Regions from separate parts of the Homo sapiens genome. Here all the other regions are linked to region 3. The links come from fine-mapping of genetic effects on gene expression. A gene starts in region 3. Each other region holds a variant in brackets. All regions are shown on one strand. Distances are between the middles of the regions.

The links. PIP is the estimated chance that this variant, and not a neighbour inherited with it, causes the effect. A credible set is the group of variants that fine-mapping cannot tell apart.
Region 1: its variant is the best candidate, but not a certain one, in a credible set for the expression of CFAP119 in lung (TOPMed, PIP 0.52).
Region 2: its variant is the best candidate, but not a certain one, in a credible set for the expression of CFAP119 in whole blood (TOPMed, PIP 0.58).

What each region holds. Positions count from the first base shown.
Region 1 is chr16:30,640,635-30,643,475 of GRCh38, forward strand. No RefSeq gene overlaps it. Among named protein-coding and RNA genes, the nearest start is that of PRR14, 8.9 kb to the right of the region's middle. The variant G/GCTC (reference allele first, on the strand shown) is at 1,325.
Region 2 is chr16:30,935,623-30,938,122 of GRCh38, forward strand. All of the region lies in intron 7 of FBXL19 (F-box and leucine rich repeat protein 19), which reads left to right. Among named protein-coding and RNA genes, the nearest start is that of ORAI3, 12 kb to the right of the region's middle. The variant C/CTCCT (reference allele first, on the strand shown) is at 1,344.
Region 3 is chr16:30,760,796-30,763,636 of GRCh38, forward strand. CFAP119 (cilia and flagella associated protein 119) reads right to left here and starts at 1,267. Exons shown (of 9, transcript NM_001014979.3): 1 at 750-1,267; 2 at 403-434. The coding sequence starts at 953. It overlaps PHKG2 (phosphorylase kinase catalytic subunit gamma 2), which reads left to right. Exons shown (of 10, transcript NM_000294.3): 10 at 1-381. RNF40 (ring finger protein 40) reads left to right here and starts at 1,527. Exons shown (of 20, transcript NM_014771.4): 1 at 1,527-1,565; 2 at 1,680-1,882; 3 at 2,323-2,490; 4 at 2,623-2,764. The coding sequence starts at 1,751. RefSeq lists enhancers at 1-391, 356-505, 1,096-1,275, 1,231-1,868, 1,356-1,615 and 1 more and a silencer at 590-819.

The DNA.
Region 1 (2,841 bases), 120 kb before region 3:
GGATCTGCAGGGATTGGGAGGTGAAAGGATTATTCAGGACTCAGGGAAGCTCAGCTTAATTGGAAGAAAAAGGTAGTGGGGAAAAAATGGGGGGTACAAGCATATGACAACTTCAATATGACAACTTCACCAAATCTCCTAGCAAAGCCCTACCCAAGCATTACATACTGACATATACATTACTTAAATTTTTATTTTTTTGAGATGTAGTCTTGCTCTGTTGCCTAGGCTGGAGTGCAGTGGTGCAATCTCAGCTCACTGCAACCTCCGCTTCTAGGTTCAAGAGATTCTCCTCCCTCAGCCTCCTGAGTAGCTGGGACTACAGGCATGCACCACTATGCCCAGCTAATTTTTGTATTTTTAGTAGAGATGGTGTTTCACCATATTGGCCAGGCTGGTCTTGAACTCCTGACCTCGTGATCCACCTGCCTCGGCCTCCCAAAGTGCTGGGATTACAGGCATGAACCACTGCGCCCAGCCAAAATATATATATATAGAGAGAGAGAGAGAGAGAGAGAGAGAGACAGGTTCTGGCTCTGTTGCCCAGGCTGGATTGCAGTCGTGGCATCTCAGCTCACTGCAACCTCTGCCTCCTGGGCTTAAGCCATCCTCCCACCTCAGCCTCCGGAGTTGCTGGGACTACAGGCTCACACCACCATTCCTGGCTAATTTTTTTTTTTTTTTAGAGACAGGGTTATGCCATATTGCCCAGGCTGGTCTCAAACTCCTGAACTCAAGCAGTCTGCCTGCCTCAGCCTCCCAAAATGCTGGGATTACAGGCGTGAGCCACTGCTCCCAGCGTATTTAAAAAATTTTTTAAAGAATAATGTAATACAGAAAAGTGCACAAACCCTAAGTGTAGGCTCAATGCATTGTCACAAAGTAAACACACCCATATCAAGAAACCAGTACCCATATCAAGAAACCAAAACATTGGCTGGGTGTGGTGGCTCATGACTACAGTCCCAGCCCTTTGGGAGCTGAGGCTGGGGAGGAATGGGTGAGGCCAGGAGTTCAAGAGGAGCCTGGACAACAGAGTGAGACCCCCTCTCTACAAAAACAAAACAAAACAAAAAATATATACATATATATTTAGCTGGGCATGGGGGTTCACACCTGTAGTCCCAGCTACTTAGGAGGCTGAGGTGGGAGGATTGCTTGAGCTCAGGAGTTCAAGGTTGCAGTGAGCCATGATCGCAACACTGCACTCAAGCCTGGGCAACTGAGCAAGACCCTCCCTCCTTTTTTTTTTCTTTACTCTACTTCTCTCCAGCAGAGACCCTGTCTCTACAAAGCAAAACAAAACATCTGTAGCATCCTAAAG[G/GCTC]CTCATGTCCCTCCTAGTTACTACCCTACCACAAGAGTAACCACTAGTTCAATTTATTTTTCTTTATTTTCTGTTAGAGATGGGAGTCTTGAACTCCTGGCTTCAAACAATCCTCCCATCACAGCCTCCCAAGTAGCTGGGGTTACAGTTGTGAGCCACCATGCCCACCGTGTAGTTGTAACATTTATTTTTTATTTTATTTTTATTTATTTATTTTTTTATTTTTTGAGATGGCGTTCCGGTCTTATTGCTCAGGCTGGAGTGCAATGGTGCGATCTCGGCTCACTGCAGCTTCCGCCTTCCGGGTTCAAGTGATTCTCCTGCCTCAGCCTCCCGAGTAGCTGGGATTACAAGCATGTGCCACAACATCCAGCTAATTTTGTACTTTTAGTAGAGACGGGGTTTCTCCATGTTGGTCAGGCTGGTCTCAAACTCCCAACCTCAGGTGATCCACCCATCTCGGCCTCCCAAAGTGCTGGGATTACAGGCGTGAGCCACCGCGCCCAGCCTGTAATATTTATTTATTTATTTATTTATTTATTTATTTATTTATTTATTTATTTTTGAGACAGAGTCTAGGCTGGACTGCAGCAGCACGATCTTGGCCCACTGCAACCTCTGCCTCCCCAGTTCAAGCAATTCTCACACCTTAGCCTCCTGAGTAGCTGGGATTACAGGTGCACACCACCATGCCCAGCTAATTTTTTGTATTTTTAGTAGAGACGCAGTTTTGCCATGTTGGCCAGGCTGGTCTCAAACTCCCAACTTCAGGTGATCTGCTTGCCTTGGCCTTCCAAAGTGCTGGGATTACAGGCATGAGCCAATGTGTCCAGCCTATATTGACTTTTAAAAGTAGTATTATAGATGTTTTATTTATCTATTCATTAATTTCATCAGAGTAAAAGGAGTGTTCAAAACTTTTTTTTTTTTTTTTGGCCGGGCACAGTGGCTCATGCCTGTAATCCCAGCAGTTTGGGAGGCCGAGGTGGGCAGATCACGAGGTCAGGAGATTGAGACCAGCCTGGCCAACATGGTGAAACCCCGTCTCTACTAAAATACAAAAAATTAGCTGGGCATGGTGGCACGTGCCTATAGTCCCAGCTACTCCGGAGGCTGAGGCAGGGGAATTGCTTGAATCCAGGAGGCGGAGGTTGCAGTGACCCGAGATTGTGCCACTGCACTCCAGCCTGGTGACAGAGCGAGACTCTGTCTCAAAAAAGAAAAAACAAAACAAACAAACAAAAAAAACTTTTTTTTTTTTTAAGACGTGTGGCCAGGCCCAGTGGCTCACACCTGTAATCCCAGAGCTTTGGGAGGCTGAGGCAGGAGGATCACTTGAGCCCAGGAGTTCAAGACTAGCCTGGGCAACATAGCGAGACCACCCTTATCTCTATAAAAATTTTTCTTTTTTTTCTTTTTTTTTTTAAGGCAGAGTCTTGCTCTTTCGGGCAGGCTGGAGTGCAGTGGCATGATCTCAGCTCACTGCAACCTCCACCTCCCGGGTTCAAGCATTCTCC
Region 2 (2,500 bases), 170 kb after region 3:
AGCATCGGGGCCCAGAGAGCTACAAGAGGTCGGAACTGGCAGTGCTTGGAGCCCTAGGGGCCGTGAGCCTTCAGAGGGCAGTAAGGGCTGGTCCAGCTCCCTGTTCCCGGGGGCTTCTGCAAGAGGGAGGGTTAGGATTGGAATTGAGGGTTTGCAGGTCGGCCTAGTAGGAGAGGACTCATTGCGGGGTGGCTGGAGTCCAGGAGGAAGTGAATGGGTTAGGGGACTTTGGCATCAAGCCACATGTCTCTGGGACGACGGCACACCTTGGCTCTTAGAGCTTTCCCTGCCTCTTGTCTCAGTGTCATTCTCCAGCTTAGAAAGAACCCACCTGTGGCTCCCTGTCGCCCTCACAACAGACGCCCACCATCGCAGTCCTGTTGGACATATGGACATGAACTGGGCCTACCGACTGCACCAACCACTTCCCTGAGCTGTGTCCCTTCCTTGTCACAGCAACCTCTGAAGGAAGCGCTGTTCTTCACCCCACTGTACAGTTTGGGAAATGGAAGCCCACACAGGGCGAGTGACTTGCCTGAGGCCCCCCAAAGCCTGGAGGTGGCAGAGCTGGGATTTAGATCCCCATAGCTCACATCCTCAGCTCTGGGCTCTGTGACCATGATAGTCTATGGCCTGGCATTCCAGCCCTCCTTGACATGACACCCATCCCTCCTTTGCAGCTCCACTCTTGCCTCTTCTCTCCTCAGAATTCAGGCTTTCCACCCAGACGGGCTAGGTGGAACCCCGCCTCTACTACCTACCACTTGGTAGTTGTGGGACCTTGAATACATTTCTCAACCTTTCTGGGCCTCATTTTTTTTTTTTTTTTTGAGACGGAGTCTCACTCTGTCACCCAGGCTGGCGACAATCTCGGCTCACTGCAAGCTCCGCCTCCCGGATTCACGCCATTCTCCTGCCTCAGCCTCCTGAGTAACTGGGACTACAGGTGCCTGCCACCACGCCTGGCTAATTTTTTTTCTTTTTTTTTTTTTTTTTTTGTTTTTTAGTAGAGACGGGGTTTCACCATGTTAGCCAGGATGGTCTCGACCTCCTGACCTCATGATCCACCTGCCTCAGCCTCCCAAAGTGCTGGGATTACAGGCGTGAGCCAGCGCGCCCGACCTTTTTTTTTTTTTTTGAGGCAGAGTCTGACTCTGTTACCCAGGCTGGAGTGGAATGCTGTGGTCTCGGCTCACTGCAACCTCTGCCTCCTGGGTTCAAGTGATTCTCCTGCCTCAGCCTCCTGAGTAGCTGGGACTGCAGGCGCGTGCCACCACACCCAGCTAATTTTTGTATTTTTAGTAGAGACGAGGTTTCACTATGTTGGCCAGGCTGGTCTTGAA[C/CTCCT]TCCTGACCTCGTGATCCGCCCTCCTTGGCCTCCCAAAGTGCTGGGATTAACAGGCGTGAGCCACCGCACACGCTTGCCTCATTTTCTTTACTGTAGAAAGGAGATGATGATGGTAATGTTGACCTCCTAGGGCTGGCGTGAGGTTCAGTGCTTAATGCATGGGACAGTGCCTGGCACACAGTGAACCCTGGATGATGGCTGGTTAGTAGTGCTGAAGTCACTGTGATCAGCGTGACTCTGGTTATGATGATGAGTTCCTGTGGCCTGGGGTTTCCAGAGCTCTCCGTCTTGTCTCTTGTGGGCCTGGACACAGGTTCTTGCCCATCTGGAACACACACCCTCCTCCCCCTCCCCTTGCTGAAATAACTACTGCTTTCCTCGGAGTCTCAGGTCAGGCATTGTCCCCCCAGGAGGCTCCCCCACCCAGTCCTTGAGGTGACTCTTACCATGCCCCTTGTCACCTCAGTTACTGCGGACTGTCCATGTCTCCCTGACTGTATGGCAGGAACCTGTCATCTTTGCCTCCTCCGTGCCCAGTGGAAGCCAGATACTTGGGATCAGTAGGGCCCTCAGTGACTGTTGGTTGTCCCTCTGAGGTTTAACCCCAGTGTCCTGGTTGTACAAGAGCAGGGGGACTGATGAGCTGTAGCCAAGGAAGGTGTGGGAGACTTCCTGGAAGAGGAGGCACTGGAGCCGAGCCACGAAGGCTCTGGGTTGGCATTTCTGGCAGAGGCACAGCATGTGCCACAACGTGTTGGCATCAGACAGCACTGTGTCTATAGGTGGGCAGGTGTGTGGCCTGGCTGTTGTGGAGTATGATACAGAAACACAACTGGGGTCCTGTGGGTGCCCCCAGGGAAAGGGGCTTCCTTCCAGCTGTGGACCGTGGAAGGGAAGTGGCTTCAAGGAAGTGGTGACAGTTAAGCTGGGAGGCAGTCGTGGCAGGGTCACAGTGGGCAGAGAGAGGTTTTGGATAGAGCAGATGTCACCGATTTTCTTGCTCACAGAAAGAGCAAAGGGGCAGGACCTAGGGGTAGAAGCTGGGTCGGGCATGAGTTGGTTTTTTTCCTTTTCATGTTTTGAATTGGAGAGATTTGCAGATGTTTATTAGTTGAGAGGAAGGAATCAGGAGAGGGAGAGGCTAGAATGCCAGAAA
Region 3 (2,841 bases):
GACTATGCAAATCGTTAACTCTCTGGGCCTAAATGAACTCTTATGAGCCTCTCCATTTCTAAAGCCTAGGGTTAGGAATCTTGAATTCTTTTTTCTGCTCTGCCACTACCTTGTATGACCTTGGTCAAGTACTCCCTGTGGCCCTCAGTGTCCCCCTCTGTACAATACTCCTTAGCGGCCATGAGACTCCATTTACATTCTGTCTTTGGCTCTTTTTTTCTCACACTGCCTCCTCTTTGGACTGGAGAGGCTGGAAAGCCAACTTCCAGTCACCTGGAGTAATTGCATCTCCAGGCCTCAGTCTCATCTGTAAAATGGGGATGCCCTGGCCACAGACAGGACTGTTGGGGAGACAATAAAGAACGCAAATATTCAGTGTAATTTTTGTCTCTTCACACTCACCACATGCAGATCCGGGGTCGGGGCAGCGGCGGCTGCGGAAAGAAAGCGAATTGGGGAAGGCAGCTGCGGTGTCCTGGCCCGTAGCGAATCTCCAGCAGGCCGGAGAAGCCGCTGTAACTTGCCATCTCATCTCAAGGACTAAGGAGAGGCGCGGGCGAGGGAGGGCTTCAGCAGGCCCTAGGTGCTCTACGCGAGCACAGTAACCACCGGGGTCACACACCCCTGCCTCTCCTCGCCCAAGCAGCCCGGGAGACGTCCCGAACGTTAGTAAGCATAATGACAGGTGGCGCCTGCGGGGGAGCCGGTTTATAAATATTCACGAGCAGACCAGACTGTCCCGCCCTCACCGGAAACAAGTTGGCTCCGGGGTCTTCATCCGCTTTCGCCGCCGCCGCCGTCGTCCACTGAGTCCGCACACTCGCACGCGTCCGCGCGGCCGACCCATGCACTGAGCTGCGATCCTTCCCCGCTTCCCGCCGCAGCTCGGAGAGATGTTCAAGCTCCGACTGCACCCTCATTCCCAAAAAGTGGCTGGTCTTGCGGTTGAGCATCTCGCCGCTCTTCCGTGCCGCGAGGCGCCCCGGGCTCCCGCCGCCTAGGTTCCAGGACAGCCAGCGCTCGGTCGGCGGCTACCAAGGCCGGGCCCGTTCGCCTCGCTCCGGCCAATCTACGCGCGGAGAGGCGCGGCGGGGCGAATCCGTGGGGGCGTCTCCCTCCGTCTCAACGGCGACGGTTGCCAAGGGGGCTTGTGAGGGAAGGAAGGCGGAAAGCGCAGGCTCACGCCAGTGGGAGCGAAGAGAACGCGCAGATACGTGAGAAGTTGCGAGTGCCCACCTGGGCGCCCTCTCTTCCAGGTTGCTAATACGAGGGCCGGTGCTGTCCTCCAGGCTGGGAAGTGGGAGCGCGGTGTCAGTTACTATGGGAACTGCCTCTTGGCCAATCACCGAGAGAAAGAGGAGGTGTTTGGGAAGAAGCCAGAGGACCCGAGTGGCGGGACCAAGCGTAACCAATAGAAGCAGAAGATAAAGAAGTTTCCTCACATCCGGGGCTGCCTTTGGCGCCTGCGCCCTGCGCACCGTTGGGGGGGGGGCAGTGGCGTCCAGTGACGCCCAGTGACGTCCGGTGAAATCCAAGATGGCGGCGCTAGGCTGACCCTCCTGCTGGTGAGGGCTCTGGCGCCGGGGGGGACGGGATCCAGCAGGTGTGTGCAGGGTGGAGGGTGTTTGGGGCTGTGGAACACCAGCCGTTCCCACATCTCTGCTCTGTGTCTTCTGCAGGTGACGGAAGTACCGCCTCCTCCCGTTTGACGCCCCTCAGGGGACCCTGCATCGCTCCAGCCGCCGCGGCCATGTCTGGGCCAGGCAACAAACGCGCCGCCGGCGACGGGGGCTCAGGGCCCCCGGAAAAGAAGCTGAGTCGTGAGGAGAAGACCACCACGACTCTTATCGAGCCCATTCGTCTTGGAGGCATCTCTTCCACGGTTCGTGGGCTCTTGCCTTAACCCTCAGAACTTCCCAGAGCCCTCCCTCTGTTCTCTGGCCAAACTGTGCGGAATCTTACACCCACTTCCCCAAGTTTAGCAAGGTCCGCGTTACAGGACCTTGAAAGAAAGGTTAGAAAGAAGCTCAGAACACGACGCCTGTCTTCCCTTTACAGATAGGAAAACAGGTTTCCAGGGGGCGTGTGACTTGTCAAAGACTAAGGATTTACAAGGGGACAGGCAGAAACAACGTGAGCCTCCTCACAACAAAGACACTTTCGCTGTGTGTTGTCTGAGCCTCCTTAGATTCTGTTAGCGGTTAGTGTGGGAATACCTCCATCTCCCATGCATTGCAGATGCTCTGCTCCTCTTTCTCTCTCTGTGATTGGTTTGTGGGCCCTGCTTGACGCTCTCGTCGGCCCCTTTGTTTCCTTTGGTAGGAGGAGATGGACCTGAAGGTACTACAGTTCAAGAACAAGAAACTGGCAGAGCGGCTGGAACAACGGCAGGCTTGTGAAGATGAACTCCGAGAACGAATTGAGAAGTTGGAGAAGCGGCAGGCCACAGATGATGCCACACTCCTCATCGTCAATCGCTACTGGGCCCAGGTGGATACCTTCTGCTTTCAAAGACCAGGCCTTGATTCAGCTGCCAATCCCCAGATTCCCCTGCTAGGAAAGGAGTATCATGTTGGAAAGCACTAAGGGATTCATAACATTTTTGATGTTTTCTCCTTCCAGCTGGATGAAACTGTGGAAGCCCTTCTCCGATGCCATGAGAGCCAGGGGGAGCTGTCTTCAGCGCCTGAGGCACCTGGGACCCAGGAGGGGCCAACATGTGATGGGACTCCTCTCCCAGAGCCGGGGACATCAGAGCTGAGAGGTAGGACCAGAGTGCTGGGATCTGGGGAGCTTAAGTTCTGGGAGAAGTCCTGGGGAGGAGGGGACTTTGGTGTTGGG